Regions from separate parts of the Homo sapiens genome. Here regions 1, 2, 3, 4, 5 and 7 are each linked to region 6. Evidence: fine-mapped expression QTL. A gene starts in region 6. Each other region holds a variant in brackets. All regions are shown on one strand. Distances are from middle to middle.

Region 1 (4,066 bases), 20 kb before region 6:
ACTCAGAATGCCTAACCTCCTGGGAATGCAGCCCAGCAGGTCTCAGCCTTATTTTACCCAGCTCCTATTCAAGATGGAGTTGCTCTGGCTCAAATGCCTCTGACACCAGCACTCATTATTTTCTGTTTTTTGTTTTGTTTTACAGTAGTCATTCTGATGGGTATGAGGTGATGACCAATTGATTTTTGACAGAGGTGCAAAAGTAATTCAAAGGAGAAAGGACAGTCTTTCCAAAACCAGTGTTGGGATAATTAGTCATCCTGCAAAAAAATGAACCTTGACCTAAATTTCACCTTATACACAGACTAACTAAAAATTGATTTTACACGTAAATGTTAAAATTCAAAGCATAATATTTAAAAAAGAAAACAGAAGAAAATTTTCATGAACTGAAGTTAGACAAAAAGTTCTTAGATATGATGTCAAATGCCTGATCCACTAAAAAACATGACAAATTGGATTCATAAAATTTAAAACCCATGCTCTGCAAAATACACTGTGAAGAGAATAAAAATACACACCACAGACTTGGAGAAAATGTTGAGAAATCACTTATCTGACAAAGACTAGTATTCAGAGTATATAAAGACCTCTCAAAACTCAACAGAAGGAAAATAGAGTTTAAGTAAAAAATGGGTAAAAGACTTGAGCAGATACTTCATCAAAGAAGTTATATCGATGGAAAATAAGCACAAGAAAATATTTTCAACATCATTAGCTATCAGGAAGTGCAAATTAAAACCATAGTGAGGCTGGGGACAGTGGCTCATGCCTGTAATGCCAGCATTTTGGGAAGCTGAGGCAGGAGGATTGCTTGAGCTCAGGAGTTCCAGACCAGCCTGGCCAACATAGTGAGACCCTGTCTCTACTAAAAATCAAAAATAGCTGGGCATGTCTCTACTAAAAATAAAAAATAGGTGGCATACCGCTGTAGTCCCAGCTACTTGGGAGGCTGAAGTGAGAGGATTACTTGAGCCCTGGAGATTGAAGTTGTAGTGAGCTATGATAGCACCACTGCACCCCTGCCTGGGTGACAGAGTGAGACCTTGCCTCCCAAAAAACAAACCAAAAAAACCATAGTGAGACACCACACCATCAGCTAAAATAGAAAAACTGACCTGACCAAGTGATGTGGAGAATGTGGAGTAACTAGAACTTGCACACATTTCTGGTGGGAATGGAGAATGATGCAGTCACTCTGGAAGAACACTTGGCAGCCTTTTATAAAGTTAAACATATACTTACTATATGACCCACCAGTCCCACTCCTAGGTATTTACCTTAGCAAATGAAAAGTTACGGCCGGGTGCGGAGGCTCATGCCTGTAATCCCAGCACTTTGGGAGGCCGAGGCAGGTGGATCACAAGGTCAGGAGATCGAGACCATCCTGGCGAACACGGTGAAACCCCCTCCCTACTAAAAATACAAAAAATTAGCCGGGTGTGGTGGTGGGCGCCTGTAGTCCCAGCTACTCGGGAGGCTGAGGCAGGAGAATGGTATGAACCCAGGAGGCAGAGCTTGCAGTGAGCCGAGATTGCGCCACTGCACTCCAGCCTGGGCGACAGAGCTAGACTCTGTCTCAAAAAAAAAAAAACAAACAAAAAAAAACCATAAAATTAAAAAAAAGAAAAGTTATGGTCACATGAAAACTTGTATAGCGGTGTTTCATAAAGCTTTGTTTGTAATACCCCCAAACTGGAAACACTGAAAACTTCTCCCACTGGTAAATGAGTAAGTAATCTTTGGTACATCCATACAGTGAATGGAAGACTACCCGGCAAAAAAAGGGACCCAGCAACTTGATTGATCTCAAAGGTAACATTCTGAGTGAAAGAAGCCTGTCTCAAAAGGTTTACATATTGTATTATTTCATTTATGACAACCTCAAAAAGATGCAACTATAAATGTTAGGCAACAAATCGGTGGTTGCCAGGAGTTAGTGGGAGAATGT[G/A]GCCTTAAGGGAGCAGCACGAGGGAGTTTCTTAGGGTGATAGAGCTCTTTTGTATCTGCATTGAAGCAGTGGCTATATGAATCTGTGTTTTTTAAAACTTCAGGAACTGGCCAGTCATGGTGGCTTATGCCTGTAATCCCAGGACTTTGGGAGGCCGAGGCTGGAGGATCACTTGAGCCAAGGAGTTTAAGACCAGCGTGGGCAACATGGCAAAACCCCATCTCTACAAAAAATAGAAAAATTAGCCCGGTGTGATGGTGCATGCTTGTAATCGCAGCTACTTCGGAGCCTGAGGTGGGAGGATCGCTGGAACCCAGGAGGGGGAGGCTGCAGTGAGCTGTGATCATGCCAGTGTACTTCAGCCTGGGTGACAGTGAGACCCTGTTTCAAAATAATAATAATAATAATAATAAACTGATAGAACTGTACACAAGAAAAGTCAATTTTACTGTAGGCTAACTTAAAATTAAAATATATAAAATAATGTTTACATGAATACAATAAAAATGTTAACATAAATAACAGTTATGCAAAAAATAACTTCACAAAAGAATTTCCAAAAGAAAAAAGTTATAGTGAGAAGAATGACATTGTTTTACAATTTTGCAAAGAATTTTTTCTGCCTTAACAGAAGACACAGGATTCAATTGTATATATGTAATTCTATGTATCTTACAGGCTCAGCAAAGCTCTACTCATTGTCTACACTCATGAGACAATGAAAGTAAATTAGACAAGTCATTCCCAGTATCTTTTTTTTTTTTTTTTTTTGAGATGGAGATTCACTCTTGCCCAGGCTGGAGCGCACTCACGTGATCTCAGCTCACTGCAACTTCCACCTCCCAGGTTCAAGCAATTCTCCTGCCTCAGCCTCCCAAATAGCTGGGATTATAGGTGTTTGCCACCACACCTGGCTAATTTTTGTATTTTTAGTAGAGACAGGGCTTCACCAAGTTGGTCAGGGATCCTGACCTCCAGTGATCCGCCTGCCTCGGCCTCCCAAAGTACTGGGATTACAGGTGTGAGCCACTGCGCTCGGCCCCAGTATTGTTTTGAGAATACTTTTGACCTCATAGACCGTTCTTCTAAAAAAAGATTTGGGGATTCTCCAGGGTTCCCTATGCCACACTTTGAGAACCACTGGCCTATGTTATAACTTTGCACTAAAGGAAGTACTTTTCTTCTTATGATTGGTTTTAGGGAAAATATTACTTTATCCTTCATAGAAAAAAATCATTTAACATATTTATTGATTGAATTATGATATATAGTCATAATTTTAAAAGTCAAATTCAGATGTTTCTTTTTTTTTTTTTTTTTTTTTGAGACAGAGTTTGCCCAGGCTGGGGTGCAATGGCGCGATCTTGGTCACTGCAACCTCCACCTCCCGGGTTCAAGCCATTCTCCTGCCTCAGCCTCCCAAGTAGCTAGGATTACAGGTGTGTGCCACCATGCCCCACGCCCAGCTAATTTTTGTATTTTTAGTAGAGACGATGTTTCACCACGTTGGCTAGGCTAGATATACAGATGATTCTTATACTTAAATGGTCACTTTGTTTATGATTTCCAGCAATAACCAGCCCTAGGAACCTTAAAAAACCTTCCTTAAAGTTTTTTTTTCAGGCTGGGCGCAGTGGCTCACGTCTGTAATCCCAGCGCTTTGGGAGGCCGAGGTGGGAGGATCTCCTTAGGTCAGGAGTTTGAGACCAGCCTGGCCAACATAATGAAACCTCGTCTCTACTAAAAATACAAAAATTAGCCAGGCGTGGTGGTGCACATCTGTAATCCCAGTTACTCGGGAGGCTGAGGCAGGAGAATTGCTTGAATCTGGGAGGCAGAGGCTGTAGTGAGCCAAGATTGCACCACTGCACTCCAGCTTGGGCAACAGAGAGAGTCTCTGTCTCAAAAAAAAAAAAAAAAGTTTTTTTTCAATTATAGGAGAGTAGATGTTTTCACCATATGAGAGTAATGACTTACAAATTATTTACTGTCAAAACTATAACATAGCCATTTCTTTTTTTTTTCCACCCCGAGACGGAGTCTTGCTCTGTTGCCCAGGCTGGAGTGCTGTGGCCTGATCTTGGCTCACTGCAACCTCTGCCTCCCTGGTTCAAG
Region 2 (4,066 bases), 130 kb after region 6:
TTGCCGCTTCTGATAACCATGTGAAAATCCTTATAGGGAGAAAGTAGTGATGACTTACCACTTTCTCAAATTAAAGGAAAGGAAATGATCAGCTAAATAATTTTTTACATGTATATTTGAGCACATACAAATGCTTGTCTTCACAGACATTTTGAATTAAGTTTATCTATTGTAAGCAAATGTCAGTCTTGGCCATGCATCTCAGTGTGCTGCTTTTATCTTTACAGCTCTTGTTCAGAAGTGATACCTGAAACATTCTCAAAAAAGGAAGAAAGGCCGGGAGTGGTGGCTCTCCCCTGTAATCCCAGCACTTTGGGAGGATTCTGCTATATATATAAGAAGGCCAAAATAACTTTAAAACGCAGACAGACTTTCAGAACCATTTCATAAAGTACACAAACACACACACACACACACACACACACACACACAGAAGACAGGAATTAAAAACACAACAGCTGGTGCGCTTCATGGTTTTAAAACTCTTAATGGTGCCTGGAAATATAATTATAGCACAGTAATAGATGTTTATAGTATTTATACTGTATATAAATTGAAAATACTGTATTTTAGAAAATTTCTCATTAGAAATATTTACCTCAAGTAATTAGAATTTAAAATTTATAAATATGGAACACTTAATTGTTCGATTCCAATGTGTGAGAAGTTCCTATAGAAGCATTGGCGTGGTGCTTTTATGTCCCAGTTGGTATCAGTGCTCTCTTTTGATCACAGGCCTGTAATCAGCGTTGATATTTTTCACATTAAGACATTTTGAACTTTTTCTTACAGGGTTTCTCTGCTGGGCTGTTTGCATTTTGCCATGATGAAGATGGAAATCCTCTCACTTCAAGATTTGCAGATGGCCTCCCACTTTTTAATTTTAGGTTTTTTTTTTTTTTTTTTTTTTTTTGAGACGGAGTCTCGCTCTGTTGCCCAGGCTGGATGGAGTGCAGTGGCGTGATCTTGGCTCACTGCAAGCTCCGCCTCCCAAGTTCACGCCATTCCCCTGCCTCAGCCTCCCGAGTAGCTGGGACCACAGGTGCCCACCACCATGCCTGGCTTATTTTTTGTATTTTTAGTAGACAGGGTTTCACCGTGTTAGCCAGGATGGTCTCGATCTTCTGACCTCGTGATCCGCCCGCCTCGGCCTCCCAAAGTGCTGGGATTACAGGCATGAGCCACCGCGCCTGGCCAATTATAGGTATTTTTCATTTCTGTTCTTGTTCTCCTCTATTAGAAGGGTGCCAAGACTAGAATCTGAGAATCATAGCATATTAGATGCCATAAATAATAACGTCTTTATGGCAAACCCATCGAAATTGTAGATAATAAAACAAAATAGGGTATAAGAGGCCATTTTATGAAAACATAACTTGTGAGATAGGCAATATTTACATAACGATGTAAGTAAGGAGGAGAGAGATACCCATACACAAGAACCATTCTTAAGCTGATAATTTGCAGTGCTTTCTTGCATTGAGCATATTCCTCAAAAGCATCAAACCTTCTGGCCAGGCACAATGGCTCGTGCCTGTAATCCTAGCACTTTGAGAGGCTGAGGTGGGCTGATGGCTTGAGCCCGTGAGTTCAAGACCAGCCCAGCAATGTGGCAAAACCCTATTTCTACAAAAAAAAAAAAATAGAAAAATTAGCCGAGCATGGTTGCATGTGCCTGTAGTCCCAGCTATTCAGGGTGCTGAGGTCAAAGGATCAGTTGAGCTCAGGAGGTTGAGAATGCAGTGAGCTGTGATCACGCACCTGCAGTTTAGCCTGGGTGACAGAGCAAGACTGTCTCAAGAGAAAAAAAAGAGAAACCTTTCAGTAAAAGTGAAGATTAAATAGAGTAATAAATTCAGTTGTTACAGATAAAAGAATTGGATTTGGCTTTAAGCTGTGTATTTGGGGAAACAATCTGAAGTATGAATGGTAAAGAGAGACTGGAGTGATTAATAAGGTAAAAACTTTATTTTCCGGCTGGCTTTGTTCACTATTTATGTTTAAACATTGCCTTGCCATGGAAACA[G/A]ATAAAGGAATTAAAAACAACCTCTTTAAGGCATGGGTAGATGAACAGATACGTGATAACAAATATAACAAAATGTTAATTACAGAATCTAGGTGAGCTGGTTACTGATTGTAAGAGTGTTTATTAAACAATTCTTTTAATGTTTTGTATGTTTGAGATTTTTATAAAACAATATTGGAGAAGAAAACTCTCTTTATGTTTTCTGTTCTTTTGCTGAGAATGAGAGATTTATAGGGAAAATGGCAGAAGCAGTCTAGGGAATAAGCCAGAAAAAAATGATTTAGGTTACAGGGAAAAATAAAAATTGATATCCATCATAATTTTCTGTAATAGATAAATATGTTACTTTTGTAGTAGTGCTTTTATTTATGCAGGATAGATTTCCCAAACTGGGATTGCTGATTTAAAATCTGTTTACACTATAAATTTTAATAGAAACTGCCATACTACATTTTTTTTAAAAAAAGGTATAGCAAAGCAGATTCCTACCAGGCGTGTATGAATGCTCGTTACCAGTTTATCAGTATTGGATATTATAGATCTTTTTTATTTTTTAAGCCCAATTTGATGGATGAAAGATGGTATCTCATTGTTGTATTTCCAGGACTATAGTGAGGTTTTAGCCATTTGCATTTTCTCTTTGTACACTGCCTATTTATTTTCCTTGTCCTGTCTTTTAGGTTAATTTTCCCTTTCTAATCACATTGTAGGAGTTCTTTATAAGTTAGAGATAATACCCCTTTTCATGTTTATTATAAATATTTCTCCTAGTTGTTTATCGTTTTACTTCATTTATCATGCTTTTGCCACGTATAGAAAAATTCTTAAGTTTTTTATCACTAAATTCATCTATCTTTTTTTTTTTTTTTTTTTTTTTTGAGATGGAGTCTCACTATATTGCCCAGGCTGGTCTTGAACTCCTGGGCTCAGGCAAGCTTCCTGCCTCAGTCTTTCAAGCAGCTGGGACTATGGTCATGTGCCACTGTACCCAGATGTTTTTTTCTTTGTTGCTTAAGGCCTCAAAAGATTATAAAAATATTCTCTTACATTTATTCTAATAAATTATTATTCGGCTTCTCAACATTTGTAGGTTCGATCCATTTGAAACTTTTTTGATTTATGTATTTTGGGATTCTTTTGTAGGGTGCATATATGTTTATAATTGTTATATCTTTATGCTGGATTTACACTTTTTTTGGGGGGGACAGGATCTCACTCTGTTGCCCAGGTTACAGTGCAGTGGCATAATCATGGCTCACTGCAGTGTTGAGCTTCCCAGGCTCAGGTAATCCTCCTACCTCAGCCTCCTGAGTAGCTGGGACTACAAAAGTGTGCCACTATGCTCGTCTAATTTTTTATTTTTATTTTTATTTTATTATTATTTTTTGAGATGGAGTCTCTGTTGCCTAGGCTGGAGTGTAGTGGTGCAGTCTCAGCTCACTGCAACCTCCACTTCCCAGGTTAAGGTGATTCTCCTGCCTCAGCTTCCCAAGTAGCTGGAATTACAGGCATGTGCCACCACGCCTGGCTAATTTTTGTATTTTTAGTAGAGACGAGGTTTCACCATGTTGGCCAGACTGGTCTCATTCTCCTGACCTCAGGTGATCTGCCCACCTCTGCCTGCCAAAGTGCTGGGATTACAGGTGTGAGCCACTGCACCTGGCCTACATAGTATATCTTTTTATCCTTTTACTTTCCACCTATTTGTGTTCTTTAGTCTAAACTATGTCTCTTGTAGATGCATAGTTAGATCATGTTTTTAAATTCAGTTTTCCAATTAACCCTGTTCTGCCTGCTACAGTGGCTGTCAGGCTACTGGTTTTCACCATGATTGTGGGCTGTCGGTTTGCAAGGCTGCCTGAAAGCTGGAGAGAGGGCATGGAAAAGCACCACAAAGTTCCTGTTTCTGCTGAGATTCATCCATTTTTCATGAATAAATGCTTTCTGCATTGCTGTAAATCTTTGATTAATTTCCAAAGTTTAAAAAGTTGATTTCACCAATTTGGGTAGCTTTCTCGTTGCTTTGATAGGAGAGAATTT
Region 3 (4,066 bases), 26 kb after region 6:
GCAGATGAACTGGGGAGGAAGAAAGTTTTTATTTCTGCAATGGGTTACAGGGAGAATACCTGGAAATTATCACCAGGCCAACTCAATATTACAAAGTTTCCGTAGCTTATATACCTTCTAAGTTATATGTCTACCTGTAAGTGTGCATTCATCTTAATGATTAACAACTTTTGGTCCATAACTAAGGTCTGAGTCTTGAAGACCTTCCTCTGGAGCCTCAGTACATTTACTTAATCTAAATGGGTCCAGGTGCTGGAGTGATTACCCTTATCTTGTCTCCTGCTAAATCACGGAGGTTTGGGAGTTCCTTCACACCCCAATAAACTTGTTTGTGGAGGCCTGGGAAGTTTCTTTAGACCCACAGTAAAACTTGTTTAATCCTAAATGGGCCTTAAGAATTCCTTCATTATTTTGTCATGCTTTAAGGCCCAGGAAAGGCCTAGGCAAAACTCTTGGTGGGCTTTTGTTAAATTCCAGCCTTTGCATAAGGGTACTGGCTCTTCCCCTCCCCCCCGTCGCGCCCTCCGAGATGGAGTCTTGCTCTGCTCTGTCACTGAGGCTGGAGTGCAGTGGGGCAGTCTTGGCTCACTGCAACCTCCGCCTCCTGCGTTCAAGCGATTTTCCTGCCTCAGCCTCCAAAGTAGCTGGGATTACAGGCACCTGCCACCACACCCAGCTAATATTTTTGTATTTTTAGTAGAGATGGGGTTTCACCATTTTGGCCAGGCTGGTTTCGAACTCCTGACTTCAGGTGATCCGCCCACCTTGGCCTCCCAGAGTGGCTAGGATTACAGATGTGAGCCATCGTGCCCGGCCGGCTCTTTCAGCTTTTAACATTTAACTTAACTACTCAGTCTGTACAGAAACAGTTGTTTTGGGGGCCTGAGTTAGTGAGACCTGGCTTGCCATGCTTATATTCTGGGATTACAAGATACTCCACGCTCCTCTTACATATTTCCCACTCTAGTCCCAGAATTAGCTGTTTCTCCAAGGAGCCCTGGTTTCTTTTATTTGAGAATGGCATTTGAAACCAAGATGTGTCACACTAGATATGCTTATTGCCGTTGAGTTTCTAGGGTGTAGTTTCTTTCAGGCTCTTTCAGCTGATAGAGTGTGAGGAAACAGGTGTATATAATACACACATTTGTAAGTATTTCCATTTGTGACCATCTGTATCTATATGAAGTTAAAAATGAGTTCATAATGATGTGCTCAACTCTAATCCATGATTACATGGATCATTCTTGCTTCCTTCTCTTGTTTATTTGTAACCTTCCACTCCAGCAGTGAGAAACCTGGCTTCCACCATCTGCCATCCAGTTTATTTAATTGGTCAGTCACAGCATACATGGTTCCAGAATTGTTAATCTTTATTTCCATGGGGTACAACTTTCAACTATAGCATAACAGTGTTTAAGTTACAGAAATGCCAGGTGGTCGATCTAGGTCTTGTTTCTCGCCACACAGAAAGCCAATCACTGAGGTGAGTATTGCCGGGGAAAAAGCCTTTTTTTTTTTTTTTGAGATGGAGTTTCGCTTTTGTTGCCCAGGCTGGAGTGCAATGGTGCGATCTCGGCTCACTACAACCTCTGCCTCCTGGGTTCATGCGATTCTCCTGCCTCAGCCTCCCGAGTAGCTGGGATTACAGGCGTGTGCCACCACGGTGGCCTGGCTAATTTTGTATTTTTAGTAGAGATGGGAGGTTTCCCCATGTTGGCCAGGCTGGTCTCAAACTCATGATCTCAAGTGATCCGCCCGTCTAGGCCTCCCAAAGTTCTGGGATTACACCCAGAGCCACTGCGCCCGGCCAGAGAAAAATTTTGCCTTTTTATTTAGGTGTTGCCTACTGAAGAGAATGGGAGATCAGTTTCGAATCTGCCTCCTCGACCAACTAAAACTGGGGAGTTTATGTACCGAAAAAAGGAATGTAACTATGTGTGAGGAAAACAGCAATTAGGAAAAGGATAAGGAAGCAGTCCTGACCTATGAGGGGAAAGAGGTGTCTGGGGTCTCATTGTCAAATGGTGATTTGGTGAGTTTCAGTCCGTTGCCTGAGGAAAGAACTCATTGGAGACAAATATAAGTTTTAGGTTTTAAAACTGGAAGGGTCAGTTTCTATGTTTATTCAAAGACCTGTACATATAATTTCTATGGGGAAATTGAGCCAGTTTCATTTATGCGCAACTTTTTTTGCCTCCAGTCTTAAAG[G/GA]AAAAAAAAAAAACAACTGATAATATTTGTTGCCTATGATAAAATTCCAGCTTCCAAATGAAAAAAAAAAAAAGACTCCACTATTTCCCAGAGTTACTTGGATCACTGCCTTTCCCCATACCCCCTTTAGTGAGGTTGTTTCCTGTGTTTGTACTGCAATTAGATTCTTTTGCTACATTCTGCGTTCCATCCTGGGATTCTCCACCTCTGAAATGTTTTCTAAAAGTTAACATGTACTGAGGCTCACTCTTGTTCTCTGAAGTTCTGCTGGTTTTGAAAAATGCGTGGTGCCGTTTACCTATCATTAAAATATCATACAGAACAATTTTACTACCTGAAAGTGTCCTGTGCTTCATCCATTTAACCCTACCCTCCAACTCCAGCTACCACTGATCTGGTACTATCTATAGTTTTGCTTTTTCCGGAATGCCCTTTAAATGGTATCTTACACTTTGTAGCCTTTCAGACTTGCTTCTTTCATTTAGCAATATGCATTTCAGATCCATCCTTCTAACAATCTTGTTGTTTTAATTTGCATTTTAAAATGACAGTGACACATAATGAACATCTTTTCTTTTCCTTTTTTTTTTTTGAGACGGAGTTTCGCTCTTTCATGTGGGGTCAACTGCAATAGAAAAGAGGACCCTCAAACACAGGCTAATTTTTTTGTTGTTGTTTTTGAAACGGAGTCTCACTCTGTCACCCAGGCTGGAGTGCAGTGGCGCGATCTTGGCTCACTGCAACCTCCGCCTTCCGATTTCAAGCATTTTCTCCTGCCTCAGCCTCCCAAGTAGCTGGGATTACAGGCGTCCGCCACCACAACCAGCAAATTTTTTTGTATTTTTAGTAGAGATGGGGTTTCACCGTGTTGGCCAGGCTGGTCTTGAACTCCTGACCTCAGGTGATCAAGACCTGGGCCTCCCAAAGTCCTGGGATTACAGGCGTGAGCCACTGCGCCCAGCAATGAACATCTTTTTATAGGCATATTTGCCATCTGTATATCATCTTTGAGGAGACTGTTGCGGTCCTGTCACCCCTCCCCCTTTTTCTTGTTGACGATCGGGATTTATTACCTCATTTAACAAGAAATCTGATGGAAAGACAGTTCCAGGATTGGTCCTTGATTTTGCGTCAAGGACCAGGTTCTTTCCATCTTCAGTGTGTTGATTTGTCTGGCTCTCATGGTCTCAAGATGGCTGCCATAGTTCAGTTACAGGAAAGGGGTCCCAATCCAGACTCCAAGAGAGGATTCCTGGATAGACCTCGAACAAGAAAGAATTCAGGGCAAGTCCCTAAAGTGAAAGCAAGTTTATTAGGAAAGTAGAGGAACAAAAGAATGGCTACTCCATAGACAGAGCAGCCCTGAGGGCTGCTGGTGCCCATTTTTATGGCTGTTTCTTGATTATATGCTAAACAAGGGGTGGATTATTCATGCCTCCCCCTTTTAGACCTATAGGGTAACTTCCTGACGTTGCCATGACATTTGTAAACTGTCATGGCACTGGTGGGAGTATAGCAGTGACGATGACCAGAGATCACTCTCATTTCTGTCTTGTTTTTGGTGGGTTTTAGCCAGCTTCTTTACTGTAACCTGCTTTATCAGCAAGGTCTTTATGACCTGTATCTTGTGCTCCCTATCTTCATCCTTTGAGTTAGAATTCCTTAACTGTCTGGGAATACAGCCCAGTAGGTTTCAGTCTCATTTACCCAGCTCCTATTCAAGATGGAGTCGCTCTGGTTCACACGCCTCTGACAGTTCTAGGCTTCACATACAGTTAAAGTATTCCAGAGACAGAAAAAGAATCTCTGCTCTCTTTTCTCTCTATTGCATTTTAAAAATTGAGATACATTCACGTAC
Region 4 (4,066 bases), 110 kb after region 6:
GTAGACACCGGGGTTTCACCATATTGGCCTGGATGGGCTCCATCTCCTGACCTCCTGATGCACCCTCCTCGGCCTCCAAAAGTGCTGGGATTACAGGCGTGAACCACCACGCTCGGCCACCTCCTCTTGTACTTGGGAGAAATGCACTGATTCTGGTTGCCACGTGGATTTATTTTGGGAGTGATATTGATCTAACTTTATGGAAATAATACTAGATAGAAAGTTAGCGGATGGATTCTCTATCTAATGAGAGTTTTGGGCAAATCGAATACCAAGTTTCCGAGTCTTACTTTTCCTCTGATGCAAGAAAACTCTGAATTAGCCAGCCTGTGAAAAACTCTCACAGCTCTGGATGTGAGTTTAGGACACTGGATTTCTACCACTCAATTTCTTACTACTTTTCTTGCGCAGGGATCATGGCACAAGTTGCAGTTTCCACCCTGCCCGTTGTAGATGAGGAGTCCGTTGAAGATGAGGAGTCCATTGAAGATGAGGAGTCCTTGGAGAGCAGGATGGTGGTGACATTCTTCATGTCAGCTCTTGAGTCCACGGTGAGACCTTCTGTTCTAACATTCTATGGTCGGGTAGGACTGGGCGGTAGATAAAATTGATTTGTTTTTGTAGAACATATAATTTTATGATTTTTATTTCTAATGAGTATATCTTTTTCTTGAATAGTAGTTATGATCAAACACTTCTAACCAAATGTGCCATGTTATCCAGCCTGGTCTCAAAATTCTGGGCTCCAGCGACCTGCCCGCCTTAGCCTCGAAAAGTGCTGGGATTACAGGTGTAAGCCATTGAACCTGGCCAAATATTTTTCTTTGTATGGCTGAATAATACTCTGTATATGTATATATTACATTTTCTTCATTCACCATTCATCCATCATCCATTCATCCATTCTTTATCAACCCTGATGGGCATTAGGGTTGGTTCTACCTGTTGGCCACTGTGAATAATGCTGCTGTTAAACGGGTGTACAAATACCTGTTTGAGTCCCTGCTCTCAGTTCTTTTGGGTATATACGCTTAAAGGGTGTTGGTGGATCAAATAATTCTATGCTTAGTATTTTTAAGGAGCTGCCAAACCATTTCCCACAGTGGGCTGTACCATTTTACATTCCAAAAAGCCTCCAATTTCTCTATAGCATTACTGACAGTTAATATTTTGTTTATATACTGTATTTTTATACTGTTTGAAATTAATCTGAGGGTTTTTGCTAATACCAAAATATTAGGAAAGTTTTTCCAAAAATCATATTCCTTATTATAAAGACTTTTACATGTTACTTGATGCCCTGTGATCTATTTTCTCAGTAAGAAGAGGAACTTCCTGGCTGGGCGCGGCGGCTCATGCTTGTAATCACAGCATTTTGGGAGGCCGAGGCAGGTGGATCACAAGGTCAGGAGTTCAAGACCAGCCTGTCCAACATAGTGAAACCCAGTCTCTACTAAAAATAATAATAAAAAAAAATTAGCCGGGTGCAGTGGCAGGCACCTCTAATCCCAGCTACTTGGAAGCCTGAGGCAGGGAACTGGTTGAACCCGGGAGGCAGAGGTCGCAGTGAGCCAAGACAAAGACACTGCACCCCAGCCTGTGTGACAGAGTGAGATTTGGTCTCAAAAAAACAAAAAAGAAGAACTTCTCTCCATCCAG[T/C]CTCATTCCACTGCACCAACTCTTTTTTGTGTCGGGTTGTGCAGGGGAGAAAGGGAGCTTGGCACCTCTTTCCTGTGTTGACTTGTGGTAGCCCATCACTGGGCACTGGGTTGTACAGCGCCTTGTCTCCTCTTTTTTGTTTTTGTTTTTTTGAGACCGAGTCTCACTCTGTTGCCCAGGCTGGAGTGTAGTGGTGCGATCTCAGCTCACTGCAACCTCAGCCCCCCCGGGTTCAAGCGATTCTCCTGCCTCAGCCTCCCAAGTAGCTGGGGCTACAGGCATGTGCCACCACACCTGGCTAATTTTTTATTTTTAGTAGAGATGGGGTATCGCCATGTTGGCCAGGCTGGTCTTGAACTCCTGACCTCAGGTGATCCGCCCACTTTGGCCTTCTGAAGTGCTGGGATTATAGGCATGAGCCACCGTTCCTGGCCGCCTCCTCTTTTACTTGGGAGAAATGCACAGATTCTGGGTGCCATGTGCATTTATTTTGGGAATGATATTGATCTAACTCATGGAAATAATACTAGATAAGAAAGTTAGCGGATGGATTCTCTAATCTGATGAGAGTTTTGGGCAAATGGAATTCCTAGTTTCTGAGTCGTATTTTTCCTCTGATGCAAGAAACCTGTGAATTAGCCAGCTAGTGAAAAACTCTCACAGTTCTGGATGTGAATTTAGGACACTGGATTTCTATCACTCACTTTCTTACTACTTTTCTCACGCAGGGATCATGGCACAAGTTGCAGTTTCCACCCTTTCCTTTGAAGATGAGGAGTCTGTTGAAGATGAGGAGTCCTTGGAGAGCAGGATGGTGCTGACATTCCTAACGTCAGCTCTTGAGTCCATGGTCAGACCTTCTGTTCTAACATTCTGTAGTTTGGTAGGATTGGGAGGTAGATAAGGTTGATTTGTTTTTGTAGAATGTATAATTTTATGATTTTTATTTCTAATGAGTAGATCTTTTTCTTGAATAGTAGTTATGGTCAAACACCTCTAACCAAATGTGCATGTGGAGTTTCTACACCGATTTTCGGACAATCTGGATACCAACTGGGTATCCCACAATTCCATCCTGACACTCCCCGGAGTTAGTGCAGACCCCGCAGGATGGGGGCTCAGTCCCAGGAGTCTACCCTCACTCCACATGCCAATTGCAAGTCCTGGGTTGTTAACATGTACTTTTGACAAACCAGTTAGGAAACAGGGTCTCATAACCCCCTTCGTGGGTGGAATCATTTGCTAGGACAGCTTGCGGAACTCAAAAAACAAGTTATTTTCTTTTATTCTCAGATACAGGGTCTCACTCTGTTGCCAGGCTGCAATGCAGTGGTGTGATCAAAGCTCACTGTAGCCTCGAGCTCCTGGGCTTAAGTGATCCTCCCGCCTCACCCTCCCAAATAGCTGAGACTACAGGCCTGCTCCACCACATCTGGCTATGTTCTTTTATTTTTTGTAGAGATGGGGTCTTGTTATGTTGCCCAGGCTGGTCTCAAATTTCTGGGCTCACATAATTCTCCCACCTCAACCTCCCAAAGTGCTAGGATTATGGGCATGAGCCACTGTGTCTCACCAATTTACGTTCTATTACTGGTTCACTGTAAAGGATATATGTTAGAAACAGCCAGTGAAAGAGATGTACATGTTGGGCACAGTGGCTCATGCCTGTAATCTCAGCAGTTTGGGAGACTGAGGCGGGAGCATCACTTAAGCTCAGGAGATTAAGACCAGCCTGGGTAACGTGGTGAAATCCCATCTCTGCAAAAAAATTTTTCTAAACGTTAGCCAGGTGCAGTGACATGTGCGTGTAGTTCTAGCTACTCAGAAGGCTGAGAGGATGGCTTGAGCTAGGGAGGCATAGGTGGCAGTGAGCCACGATTGTGCCACAGCACTCTAGCCTGGGAGACAGAGCCAGACCCTGTCTCAAAAAAAAAAAAAAAAAAAAAAAAAAAAAAAATGCACAGAGCAAGGTATGTGGGGGGAAGGGCACAGAACTTCCATGCTCTCTGTTGTGCATGTTACCCTCCTCATATGCCCCTTGTGTTCAACAACCCAGGCATTCTCCAAACCCTGTTGTTGAGGGTGTTGATGAAGGCTTCGTTATGCAGGCATGATTGTTGAAATCATTGACCATTGGTGATTAAGTCAATCTTCGGCCACCATTTCTTCTGGAGCTCAGTGGGTGAGACTCACAGTTCCAAGCCTCTGGCAACCAGCCCTCCTCCTGAAGCTGTCTAGGAGCTTTCAGTCACCCAGTCATCCAGTAACATCACCAAATGCATTCGTACTATGGTGGAGATCCCAAAGGTCTTAGAGGCTCTTGTGTTAGAAACCTGGGACTAACACCAAATATTGAAACAAAAGATGCCCCTATCACCTTTATCAACGAGGACTTTATAAGAACTTT
Region 5 (4,066 bases), 51 kb after region 6:
CTGGAGTGTGCAGTGGTGCGATATCGGTTCACTGCAATGTCTGCCTCCCGGGTTCAAGCAGTTCCCCTGCCTCAGCCTCCCAAGTAGTTTGGAATACAGGCGCGTGCCACCAAGCCTGGCTAATTTTTGTATTTTTAGTAGAGATGGGGTTTCACCATGTTGGGCAGGCTGATCTTGAACTCCTGACCTCAAGTGATCTGCCTGCCTTGACTTCCCAAAGTGCTGGGATTACAGATGTGAGCCAGAATGCCCAGCCTGGGATTGCCTTTCTGTTCTCTCTCTCTCTTTTTTTTTTTTTTTCAGGGTAGGCAGGAAAGTATTTTTATTATAAATTTCAGGATCTAAAAAATATTTATTACATTTGCTACGATTAAGGTGACCTTTAAACCAAGCCACGTGTGCCCTGCATAGTGACGTCGTGACCCTCGGGCATGGAAAAAGACATAGGTCTACCCAGATAACCCGGATAACCTTCTGAGGTCTCTTCAGCCCTTTTCGCTAGTGGTCACCCACCACTATGGTTACTTGCCAGCAACATCTTTATTGCTGGATGGTCCCTGTGTATAACCCTGGTCTAGTATATTTTTTCCAATATGTGACCTCAGTCTTACTACTGACTAGTTCTGTGGGTCTCTTGCTAGGTGGTAAGGATTTTTATACTTGGGCTTATAGAGCCAGTTAGATCATAACTCTTATGAAATATAGAGTGTCCTAAATATCACTGAAATAAAAAGTAGGAAAAAGAAGCTTGAATTTTAAGACTGAGGCTGCTCTGAAGATTCTAGTTTGGCTTTCAGAGTTCAAGAATGGTGGCATCTTCACCTGAATTCTTCAATGTCAGGGCCTTTCTGTTCTCTTAATGCCTTTGGATGACACTAATTTTAATTGAATTTAAGTTTTTATGTAGTTGAATTTATTTTTGCTTATGGTTAGTGTTTTTAAAAAATCCTGTTTAAGACAACTTTTTCTACCACAAACCTTAATTGGTTTATTGTTCTCATGTAGTCCTATCATCCAGAAAGATCATTGTGTTTGGTAGGGGGTCAGTATTCACTTTGGTTGCAGAAGAATATATAGTTGAACCAGCATCATTTATTGAAAAAATTCTTCTTTCCCCACTGTACTGTGTCACCTTTGTCATAAATGAGACAACCGTCCATATATGGGTTTGTTTCTAAATTTTTTAGTATTCTGTTGAGCTATATTTCCTTGTGCCAACACCATCCTGTGTTAACTTCTATAGTAATATGTTTTTTTTTGGCGGAGGGGGGAGCAATGGAGTCTCACTCTATCACCCAGGCTGGAGTGCAGTGGTGCGATCTCGGCTCACTGCAACCTCCGCCTTCTGGGTTCAAGTGATTCTCCTGCTTTAGCCTCCTGAGTAGCTGGAATAACAGGCATGCACCACCATGCCTGGCTAATTTTTGTATTTTTAGTAGATACTGGGTTTCACCATGTTGGCCAGGCTGGTCTCGAACTCCTGACCTCAGGTTATCTGCCTGCCTCAGTTTCCCAAAGTGCTGGGATTGCAGGTGTGAGCCACTGCGCCCAGCCATAATATCTTGTATAAATTCCTTAGTGTGGTTCATTTTCCTCAAGATTGCCTTGGTCTAAGCCTTTTTTATGTCTGTATATATATATTTTATAATCAGCTCTTCAATACCCACAAAATAATCTGCTAAGAATTTTTATTATGATTGCATTGACTATAGATTGATTGTGGAAGAATGGACATATTGTTTTCTGCTTTTTTTTTTTTTTTTTTTTTTTATTCTTTGATTGAGAGTCTCACTCTGTTGCCCAGGCTGGGGTGCAGTGGCTAGATCTCAGCTCACTGCAACCTCTGCCTCCTGGGTTCAAGTGATTCTCCTGCCCCGACCTCCTGAGTAGCTGGGACTACAGGCGTGTGCCACCACAACTGGCTTTTTTTTTTTTTT[T/A]AAATAATAAATATCGGGTTTCAGCGAGGCTGGTCTTGAACTCCTGGTCTCAAGTGAGTATGTTGTGGAGAAATACTTTGAGACTGTCCAGATATCTTGTTCCTTTTCTGTTGTCCTACTAATTTTAGCATCCATAAATGCTTGTCTGCAACAGTTTTTACTGTGGTATTTGTGTAATGACATCTGTTTCCCTATCTTGTTCAAGATCAACCTCGGCGAAACCCCATATCTACTAAATTAACCAGGCATGGTGACGCACTCCTGTAATCCCAGCTACTCGGGAGGTTGAGGCAGGAGAATCGCTTGAACCCGGGAGGTGGAGGTTGTGGTGAGCCGAGATCGTGCCACTGCACCTGAGCCTGGGTGACAGAGTGAGACTTTGAATCAAACAACAACAAAAAGACAGTATGTCTGTTCTTTCCCAATTATTCTGTGGTCAATGCAATCATAATCAAAATTCTTCGCAAGTTATTTTGTGGCTATTGAAGAGCTGATTATAAAATATATGGAGACATAAAAAAGGCTTAGACTAAGGCAGTCTTGAGGAAAATGAGCCACACTACAGAATTGGTCATGGATGAAATCATGGGGCGTTGAAGCTGTCTTCTTGAGTTGAGTCAGTTCCTGAGTTGGGGCCACAAGATCAGATGAGCCAGTTTATCGATCTGGGTGGTGCCAGCTGATCCATTAAGTGCAGGGTCTGCAAAATATCTCAAGCAGTGATATTAGGAGCAGTTTGGGGAGGGTCAGAATCCTGTAGCCTCTAGCTACCTGATTCGTAAACCATAATTTCTAATCTTGTGGCTAATGTTGGTCCTACAAAGGCAGTCTAGTCTCCAGGCAAGAAGGAGGTCTGCTTTGGGAAAGGGCTATTACTGTCTTTGTTTTAAAAAACTATAAACTAAGTTTCTCCCAAAGTTCATGCTATGCCCAGGAATGAACAAGGACAGCTTGGAGGTTAGAAGTAAGATGGAGTCGGTTAAGTTAGATCTTTCACTGTCTCAGTCATAATTTTGCAAAGGCTGTTTCAAGTTTACAGTCAGGCTGTAGCCAGTTTTCCACCTGTAGTCTAGATACCTGTGGTTACTAAGAGTGTAGTTCTTCAGCCCAGGTGGAAAGCCTTATTCCCTAAAATTTAATGCAGGGACTGGTTATAGGCCCTCTTGCTCTGTGAAAGTGTGGATATTCTAGAGTACTGAAGTACTCTATAGGATTATGTGGTCATAGGACTTTGTGCACTTTTGGCAGCCATAAGAGATCTGGGGCACCGTCCTTTTTGAATCTCATTCCGTTCAATCCTGCAAGTATCCCACTTAGAAGTCCCACAGTTTTCAGAGAACTGTGCTTGTGATTGTTATCCTGGTGCCATATCTGTAGGTCAGCAGCTTTGAGAGGAAGACACCAGGGAGCTTACTTTGTGACCTTTTAGTACCCTTTCATTTATGGCTATTTTTTCCTACTCCTCTGATTTGGGAGGTTTCTTTCTGGGTTCTGGAAAATGAACTTCTTCAAGGTCTTCTCTTTCATCTTCAAGTGCTACTTTTCTTCAGCTCTTTTTTTGTTGTCAGTCTTTTCTCATCTGTTCTGTATCATCCAGAAGCGCCTTATGATTCTTGGCTTTCTAGGAATGCTGTAAATTTAATTTCATGTTTTTTCTGTTATATCTGTGGAAGTGGAGAAACACAGCTCTGTGTATGTTTATTACATGTAGATATTTCTAAGCTTTGTTGTACTGGAAGACAGTTCATTTCTTAAAACTTTATAGTTATTGTTTTAAAAGTGATAAGCAAGTGTCATTTTTTTCTTTTAAAATGTTTCCTATTTTTTTCAGGCAAATGCCATTTTATTTTATGTTTACTGTAGTCCTTCTCAAGAATACTTAAAGGGGATATTTTCCTTGAGTTATTTTTATTTATTTATTTAGATAGATAGATAGATACAAGGTCTTGCTCTGTTGCCCAGGCTAGAGTGCAGTGGTGCAATCATAGCTCACTGCAGACTTGATCTTCCGGGCTCAAGGCAATCTTCCCACTTCAGCTTCCTCAGTAGCTAGGATTACAGGTGTATGCCACTGTGCCTGGCTAAGCTTGAGATTTTTTTTCATACAGAGATGTTAAAAATGAAAGCTT
Region 6 (4,066 bases):
CCCTGTCTCTACTAAAAATACAAAAATTGGCTGGGTGTGGTGGCAGGTGCCTGTAGTCCCAGCTACTCGGGAGGCTGAGGCACCACAATCGTTTGAACCGGAGAGGCAGAGGTTGCAGTGAGCTGAGATCGCGCCACTGTACTCCAGACTGGGCAACAGAGCAAGACTGTCTCAAAAGAAAACAAAAAAACAGTTTACAAACTTTTCTGTTTCATGGATACAGGAATCAGAAACTGATACCCAAGCTCATAAGTGGCATAAACATAATACTCAAACAGCATAACATAATACATATATTCCCTCTGTGTTTTGAAAACTATTTGTTAAAACAATCATTCAGAAAAGTAGACAAATCAGGCTGGGTGTAGTCGCTCACGCCTGTAATCCCAGCACTATGGGAGGTCGAGGCGGGTGGATCACCTGAGATCAGGAATTCGAGAACAGCCTGGCCAACATGGTGAACTTGTCTCTACTAAACATACAGAAGATAGCCAGGTCGTGGCATGCACCTGTAATCCCAGCTACTCGAGAGTCTGAGGCAGGAGAATTGCTTGAACCCAGGAGGCACAGGTTGCAGTGAGCCGAGATCGAGCCACTGATCTAGGCTGGGCGACAAAAGCGAAATTTCGTCTCAAAAAAAAAAAAAAAAAAAGAAAAAAGACCAGGCCGGCTCGGTGAGCCGAGGGGGGCGGATCACTTGAAGTCAGTAGTTCAAGACCAGCCCAGCCAACATGGTGAAACCCCGTCTCTACTAAAAATACAAAAATTAGCCGGGCATGGTGACGCGCACCTGTAATCCCAGCTACTCGGCAGGCTCAGGCAGGAGAGTCGCTTGAATGCGGGAGGTAGAGGTTGCAGTGAACCTAGATCACGCCACTGATCTAGGCTGGGTGACTGTAGCCTGGGTGACAGAGCAAGACTCTGTCTCAAATAAATAAATAAATAAATAAAAGTAAAGACTTCTGCAAAGTGTGTGTGTGTGTGTTTGGGGGTAGTGGGTGGGAAGCGAAAAAGAGGCTTTTTTTTTTTTTTTTTTTGGAGACGAAGTCTCACTCTTGTCACCCAGGGTGGAGTGCAGTGCACCATCTCGGCTCACTGCAACCTCCGCCTCCTGGGTTCAAGCGATTCTCTTCCCTCAGCCTCCCAAGTAGCTGGGATTACAGGCATCCGCCACCATGCCCGGCTAACTTCTGTATTTTTAGTAGAGACGGGGTTTCACCATGTTGGCCAGGCTGGTCTGGAACTCTTGACCTCAGGCGATCCGCCCACCTCTGCCTGCCAAAGTCCTGGGATTACAGGCGTGAGCCACCACGCCCAACCTGAAAAAATTCTTAAATGAAATGACTTTAATTCAATTAAAATTACTAATCCTGTTAATAGAAATAATTTTATTCTTTTTTCTATTGATGTTTGTAAAAAGATTTTTTTTTTTTTTTTGTGAGACAGAGCCTCACTCTGTCGCCCAGGATGGAGTGCAGTGACGCTATCTCGGCTCACTGCAACCTCCGGCTCCCAGGTTCAAGCTATTCTCCTGCCTCAGCCTCCCGAGTAGCTTGGATTACAGGCGTGCGCCACCAAGCCCGGCTAATTTTTTTGGTGTTTTTTGTTTTTGTTTTTGTTTTTTAGTAGAGACAGGGTTTCACCGCGTTGGCCAGGCTGGTCTCTAACTCCTGACCTCAGGTGAACCAGCCGCCTCGGCCTCCCAAAGTGCTGGGATTATAGGTGTGGGCCACCGCTCCAGGCCTGTAGGCTTTTTTATATTTCAGTATTAGGTGCATATCTTTCAAAATAAATAAACATAAGCCAGGCTTTTCCAACTGCGTCCTACACATTCTACAAGATATTAATCATGTGTCAAGAATAAAAAGTGTTGTGTTCAAGTACGTTTGGGAAACATTGCTAGTATATTATTTTCTTCTTAGAGAACCATAGAAAAACTTGAGAGGTTGGCGGGTTGGCGCAAACCAAGACCAAAACTGAACTGCAATCACTACCAAACCCCCACGAGTTTGCCCCTCCCCGCTTGCTAGCCTCAGTCCAGATTCTCCGGAAAAAGAAATCAGTCGTACGGGCTCTCGAAATGACGTACTTCCCGCGCGCCGCGAAGTCCTGATGCCAAGGGGCCAGTCGCGAGGTAAAGGAGGGGTCTCTGAAGTGGGCGTGGCGTCGCTGGAGGCTACTCAGGCGCGGGACTCGTTCTCGAGGCGGGAGCTGAGGTGCGGGGCGGGGCCTCCTGCCCGGCGCCGGCCTGTGGGGAGGCGGGGCGGGGCACAGTCTCTTAACCGTGCAGCCCGCCCCTGACGCCGCCGGTAACTGCGAGAGTCGGGGTCGGTGCGGTTTGATAAGTGGTCGGTTCCTGGAGCTGCGGTCTTCTGCTAGCCTGATCCGCAGCTTCAGCCTCCGCCGCCTCCTCAGCCCTCGGCGCCGCCGCTGGCGCCGCCGCCTGACCCGCAGGCCGCCGCGGGCCGCAGAGCCCATGAGGGCGCGGGCACCGCCGCCGCCTCCGCGGCGTCGCCGTCGTCCCGGAGCGCCCCGGGCTGGCGCGGGCATGGCCGCGGCATGAGCGTGGAGCCGCCGCCGGAGCTGGAGGAGAAGGCGGCGTCGGAGCCCGAGGCGGGAGCCATGCCGGAGAAGCGCGCGGGCGCGCAGGCCGCGGGGAGCACCTGGGTGAGCGCGGGCGCGGGGCCCGGCTGCCTGAATCCCGGGGAGGCTGGGTGGGGTCGCACCCAGGGCCCGCGAGCCCGCCGCTCCGGGCAGGGGCTTCGGCTCTTGGAAAGTCGGTCCTTTTCTGGGGGGGGAGGCGAATTCATCACGAATACAGGTTTTTCCTAGTGACTGCTCATCGCAGACAAAACTTTACAGGATTTGGTTATTGTTTCAAAAGGCGCTAGACATGGGACAGTGAATATAAGTAGTAATTTGGTTATTTCGGAGTTCTCCGTCCCTGTAACAGTTGATAACAGTTTTCCTGGCGCAGTTTCTCTCCAAGTCTACATGGAAAACAGGTAGGGAGCATTTGAATCAGACCGTCGACGGGGAAGTTGGCGGCAGATGCCGGGCAGCGCCTTGCTGCTCCTTCCGTGTTCTCCCGGCGTCGGAGGGGCGGTCCTAGCGATGGGGAGCAGAGTTTCCAGGGGCGTTGCTGGGGACCAGCCGAGGAGCAAGTTAGGCTGGCCTCTTTCTCCAGTTTTACTTTTGCTTGAGGTCGAGATGGCTTCTGACAATGATACAGAAGCAATTGAGCCCTGACTTAACTGGCCTGGTTTCGGCAGAACAGGCCTTGTCTGTGTCAGTGGTTTCATATGGTGCAATATTAAGCCTAGAGGGTTTGTCGTTTCTTCAAGGCCTAAGTTTAAAAAGGATTTTTTTTTTTTGGTCTTAGGACCTGAAATATAGAGAATGTTACAGTGAATAGAAACTGACACAATGGGAAAGTTTTTCCAAAGAAAAGTAGAAATTTTATGGAAATTAAATACATGTTTTTGGCTTTAGATTTTTAGCTTACATATCTGATTTTGTGTTTAGTTGAAGAATGCTAAGTGTTTACATGAACGTATTTGGGGATGTAAATCCCTATTAGTAGGTTGGGAGGGCAGCTGAAGCAGAAGGAGCAGTAGGTAGAACGGATCCGGCAGAGCTGGTTTTTAGTCCTGGTTTTGCCTGAACAGTGCGCACTCTGGACAGGGTATTGAAACAGCCTTGCCCCTCAGTGCCTCCTCTGTAAAATGAGGACTTAGTTGAAGTCCCCTCCCAGCCCAAGTGACTCCCTATTTTGAAAAGCATTTCAAAGTTAAGATCTCTGTAATATGAGAAGCTTATTTTGTCGAGGGAGAGAAATTCTGTATAATTGCTTGCTCTCATTTTGATTCGCGTTAAGTAGACTTGTCCTCTTCCTGCTTGCTACACAAAACTAAAGCACCAGTTCCTCCTCCTGTCTCATGAATTGATGGACAGTAATTACTAACCAGTGGCCCAGCTAGTAACCTGCGAGGTAGCTTCCTTCATCCCTTCCCATACTTAAAACAATCAGAAAGTCTAGCTAAGTTTATTAGATACAGATTTTAGG
Region 7 (4,066 bases), 75 kb before region 6:
TTGCAGATATGATCTTACTGACTCTAATCAATGATACAAAGAGTTTTTCTTAGGAATAGTATGGTCAAAAATAAGAAATACGTATTTTGTGATTAAAAATAGTTAACAAATAGAATAACATATAAATCAGTATTGTATTTATAATCGTCTGCCTTGAACCAAGGGTCTTCTGTTAAGTAGTTTAATTCCATTAAATTGTTCACTTCTGTTCTGATAGGGCACTTGAAACCCTGATTCAGTTTCTTGCTATGGGTTGCTACTTGCCAGGTACATTTCTGATCAATGCTCTTAAAAATTTGTTCCAGGGGCTGGGCGCGGTGGCTCACGCCTGTAATCCCAGCACTTTGGGAGGCCAAGGCAGGCGAATCACTTGAGGTCAGGAGTTTGAGACCAGCCTGGCCAACATGGTGAGACCCTGTCACTACTAAAAATACAAAAAATTAGCCAGGCGTAGTAGGTGCGCCTGTAATCCCAGCTACTCAGGAGGCTGAGGTGGGAGAATTGCTTGAACCCAGGAGGTGGAGGTTGCAGTGGGCTGAGATAGTGCCACTGTACTCCAGCCTAGGCGACAGTGCGAGACTCCTTTAAAAAAAAAAAAAAAAATTTGTTCAAGGAGACTCAATTTCTAATCTGAGTTAAAAAGCAGGAGTCTTTAAACAAAAGTAAGATAAAAAAGATAAACTAGCCATGAATAAGAAAATGCCTTATTTTTCTCTTACCAAATGCTTTGCTTATTCACTACAGCAAACAATTTCAGAGATAATGAAAGCAGACTTCTCTATTGAGGGCTGTCCCATAATGACTCATAAGAACTTAGTCCTGCCGAGCGCAGTGGCTCATGCCTATAACCCCAGCACTTTGGGAGGCCGAGGCAGGCGGATCACCTAAGGTCAGGAGTTCGAGACCAGCCTGGCCAACATGGTGAAACCCCGTCTCTCACCTAAGGTCAGGAGTTCAAGACCAGCCTGGCCAACATGGTGAAACCCGATCTCTACTAAAAATACAAAACTTAGCCGGGCATGGTGGTGCACGCCTGTAATCCCAGCTGCTCAGGAGGCTGAGACAGGAGAATTGCTTGAACCAGAGGTTGCAGTCAGCCAAGATCACGCCACTGCACTCCAGCCTGGGCAACAGAGCGAGACTCTGTCTCAAAAAAAAAAAAAAAAAAAAGAACTTAGTCAATAATTACCTAGGAGTTACGGTATCAACTTACGGAAGCTGAAAGCACTGCCAATTTCCAGAGCCTTTAATTTATACCATCATGGGAATTAGTGTTATCTCCAATTGGCAGCCTATTTAAACCTAGAAACAAAATTTTTTGAAAAAGTCAATTTGTATAGTTTTAACAGTTTTTGTGCATGGATAAGAATATGCTTAAGCCGAAATATGTATAATCCCTGAAACATCTTTATGCTAATGAGAAGTCATCTATTATTAACTTTCAAACGCTGAGCTTCTCCTTAATTCACCAGATTTTTTTAAAAATCCTGGATTATTGAGCAAAACAGTGTACGTAGTGTTGTGCAATGCTATTCGGGGAATATACTTGGCTGCAGTCTTCCCAGAGGCTAGAGGACAGCACCTTCATTTGCC[C/A]GGAGGGCAGCATCAGGGATTCCTCTTCTTCAAGAGGACTTAAGGGTGTCCATACAGTTCAGGAGACAACTCACATCAGGCTGATATGGAAGCTCCCTGGCCTAAAGCCTATTCCACACAGGAGCCAGTATCTCTTGCTACAGCTTATCTGATTCGTGGGTGCCCCTTACTTGAGTCACCACAGTCAAGGAAGCCCAAAGCATGGCTCCCCTTCAGATGCTAAGATCTTATTTATAGCACCTTCAAGATCATAATCAGTCTGTTTCTTAACTGCAGCTCAGACACCAAGTTCTTGGCTCTTGCATAAACAGCAGGCCGAACAAATGTTTCTCAGGCAAGGTTTAATAGGCTTGAGCTGGAGCAAAAGCAAGGGAGCGGCGCCCAAGAAAGGAAGATAAATGTGTAACTCTACTTGCAGCAATTTATAGAGCTGAAGCTGCCTGTGATGCTTTTTTGAACCTTTTAGTTTGGCTGATAGGACTAGTTTGTAGTGTGGGTTTTCTGTGCTGCAATAGAGCATGTAATGTGCCCTTGTGGGTTGGAAGATAAGTCTTTGTTGTGAACATCTGAAGAAAACTGCTGGGCAGGTATTACAATCCATGGTCACCTGTGGTGATTCTGACCAAGACTTTCTCTCTAGCAGAGCCTAGAACAGAATTCCAGCCAAGTTTTCCCCACCTGGTGGCCTTTTCTAGCTCGCAGCTCCTCAGACAATATGCGCTAAGTGGCCATCCCACACAGATCTTCCCAAGCTCATCTGCAGGAGGTGACTTCCAACTAGAAGCTCCAAGATGCTCTAGTGAAAAAGGAGAAAGTGGAGAGACAGAAGGCCCCGACAGCTCATTAAGAAAGAGGCCAAGCAGAATTTCTAGGACATTCTTCAGCCCACATCAAGGTGACCCAGTAGAATGGGTAGAAGGGAACAGAGAAGGAGGAACAGACCTTCGCCTGGCCCAAAGGATGAGTCTTGGGGGGTCAGACACAATGTTGAAGGGAGCAGACACTTCAGAATCTGGAGCAGTCATACGTGGAAACTATAGACTGGGACTTAGCAAAAAGTCAAGCCTGTTCAGCCACCAGAAGCATCATGTGTGCCCTGAATGCGGGAGAGGCTTTTGCCAGAGATCAGACCTTATCAAGCACCAGAGGACACACACCGGGGAGAAGCCATACCTGTGTCCTGAGTGTGGGCGTCGGTTTAGCCAGAAGGCCTCCCTCTCCATACACCAGAGGAAGCACTCGGGGGAGAAGCCGTATGTGTGCAGGGAATGTGGGCGACACTTCAGGTATACATCCTCTCTCACTAATCACAAGAGGATTCACTCCGGGGAGAGGCCCTTTGTATGTCAGGAGTGTGGGCGAGGCTTTCGCCAGAAGATAGCCCTCCTTCTACACCAGAGGACGCACTTGGAGGAGAAGCCCTTCGTGTGTCCTGAGTGTGGGAGAGGCTTTTGCCAGAAGGCATCACTCCTCCAGCACCAGAGCTCACACACAGGGGAGAGGCCCTTCCTGTGCCTTGAGTGTGGGCGTAGCTTCAGGCAGCAGTCACTCCTCCTTAGTCACCAGGTCACACACTCAGGAGAGAAGCCTTATGTCTGTGCTGAGTGTGGGCACAGCTTTCGCCAAAAGGTCACTCTCATCAGGCACCAGAGGACACACACAGGGGAGAAGCCTTACCTGTGCCCCCAGTGTGGGCGGGGTTTTAGCCAGAAGGTCACCCTCATTGGACACCAGAGGACACACACAGGGGAGAAGCCCTACCTGTGCCCTGATTGTGGGCGTGGCTTTGGTCAGAAGGTCACCCTCATCAGACACCAGAGGACACACACAGGGGAGAAGCCTTATCTGTGCCCCAAGTGTGGGCGTGCATTTGGCTTTAAGTCGCTCCTCACCCGACACCAGAGGACACACTCAGAGGAGGAGCTTTACGTAGACAGGGTGTGTGGACAAGGACTTGGCCAGAAGTCACACCTTATCTCTGACCAAAGGACACACTCAGGAGAGAAGCCCTGCATTTGCGATGAATGTGGGCGCGGCTTTGGCTTTAAGTCTGCCCTCATCCGACATCAGCGGACCCATTCTGGGGAGAAGCCGTATGTCTGCAGGGAGTGTGGGCGTGGCTTTAGCCAGAAGTCTCACTTGCATAGACACAGGAGGACCAAGTCTGGTCATCAGCTCCTACCCCAAGAGGTCTTCTGACCTTTCCTTTCCCCGTGAGTGTGAAGCTGGCAGAAATCACTAGTAAATGCTTCAGTTTCCTGAAATGGAATGGAAAAAAAAAAATGTTGCTTTCTTTCATCGATCATGAGATAGTTGATTTTTGGTTTACTTTCTATATTCACAATTTGTCTTGGCTTGCTAGGGGTTCCATAACAAAGTACCCCAGGCTGGGTGATTTTGACAACGGAAATATATTTTCATATTTATGGAGGCTGGAAGTCCCAGATGAACGTATTGGTAGGTTTGGCTGCTG

Alleles and levels. Positions count from the first base shown, and alleles are read on the strand shown. Sizes are in standard deviations (SD) of each study's normalised expression. Not every link is listed here.
With allele T in place of A in region 5, the expression in monocytes after LPS of the gene that starts at base 2,309 in region 6 is lower (moderate effect, 0.74 SD a copy in Quach 2016).

Evidence for each region. PIP is the estimated chance that this variant, and not a neighbour inherited with it, causes the effect.
Region 1: its variant is fine-mapped to the expression of SLC71A2 in whole blood (TOPMed, PIP above 0.99). The same link has a PIP of 0.9 or more in blood mononuclear cells and monocytes.
Region 2: its variant is fine-mapped to the expression of SLC71A2 in macrophages (Nedelec 2016, PIP 0.91).
Region 3: its variant is fine-mapped to the expression of SLC71A2 in whole blood (INTERVAL, PIP above 0.99). The same link has a PIP of 0.9 or more in monocytes.
Region 4: its variant is fine-mapped to the expression of SLC71A2 in whole blood (GTEx, PIP above 0.99).
Region 5: its variant is fine-mapped to the expression of SLC71A2 in monocytes after LPS (Quach 2016, PIP 0.95). The same link has a PIP of 0.9 or more in monocytes after Pam3CSK4.
Region 7: its variant is fine-mapped to the expression of SLC71A2 in subcutaneous fat (GTEx, PIP 0.96).

What each region holds. Positions count from the first base shown.
Region 1 is chr9:94,352,471-94,356,536 of GRCh38, forward strand. All of the region lies in intron 2 of LOC100132077 (a long non-coding RNA gene), which reads left to right. Among named protein-coding and RNA genes, the nearest start is that of SLC71A2, 20 kb to the right of the region's middle. The variant G/A (reference allele first, on the strand shown) is at 1,952.
Region 2 is chr9:94,497,264-94,501,329 of GRCh38, forward strand. The region is part of intron 1 of LOC107987100 (a long non-coding RNA gene); the gene reads right to left. It also overlaps the pseudogene LOC100421692. Among named protein-coding and RNA genes, the nearest start is that of PCAT7, 56 kb to the right of the region's middle. The variant G/A (reference allele first, on the strand shown) is at 2,027.
Region 3 is chr9:94,398,301-94,402,366 of GRCh38, forward strand. The region is part of intron 1 of SLC71A2 (solute carrier family 71 member 2); the gene reads left to right. Among named protein-coding and RNA genes, the nearest start is that of SLC71A2, 26 kb to the left of the region's middle. The variant G/GA (reference allele first, on the strand shown) is at 2,209.
Region 4 is chr9:94,485,289-94,489,354 of GRCh38, forward strand. LOC107987100 (a long non-coding RNA gene) reads right to left here. Exons shown (of 3, transcript XR_001746844.2): 2 at 2,364-2,532; 3 at 154-590. Among named protein-coding and RNA genes, the nearest start is that of PCAT7, 68 kb to the right of the region's middle. RefSeq lists an enhancer at 2,790-2,959. The variant T/C (reference allele first, on the strand shown) is at 1,660.
Region 5 is chr9:94,422,981-94,427,046 of GRCh38, forward strand. The region is part of intron 2 of SLC71A2 (solute carrier family 71 member 2); the gene reads left to right. Among named protein-coding and RNA genes, the nearest start is that of SLC71A2, 50 kb to the left of the region's middle. The variant T/A (reference allele first, on the strand shown) is at 1,938.
Region 6 is chr9:94,372,261-94,376,326 of GRCh38, forward strand. It overlaps SLC71A2 (solute carrier family 71 member 2), which reads left to right and starts at 2,309. Exons shown (of 12, transcript NM_032558.3): 1 at 2,309-2,667. The coding sequence starts at 2,560. RefSeq lists enhancers at 2,077-2,578, 2,579-3,078 and a silencer at 2,128-2,527.
Region 7 is chr9:94,297,579-94,301,644 of GRCh38, forward strand. It overlaps ZNF169 (zinc finger protein 169), which reads left to right. Exons shown (of 5, transcript NM_194320.4): 5 at 2,237-4,066. The coding sequence ends at 3,792. Among named protein-coding and RNA genes, the nearest start is that of NUTM2F, 29 kb to the right of the region's middle. The variant C/A (reference allele first, on the strand shown) is at 1,594.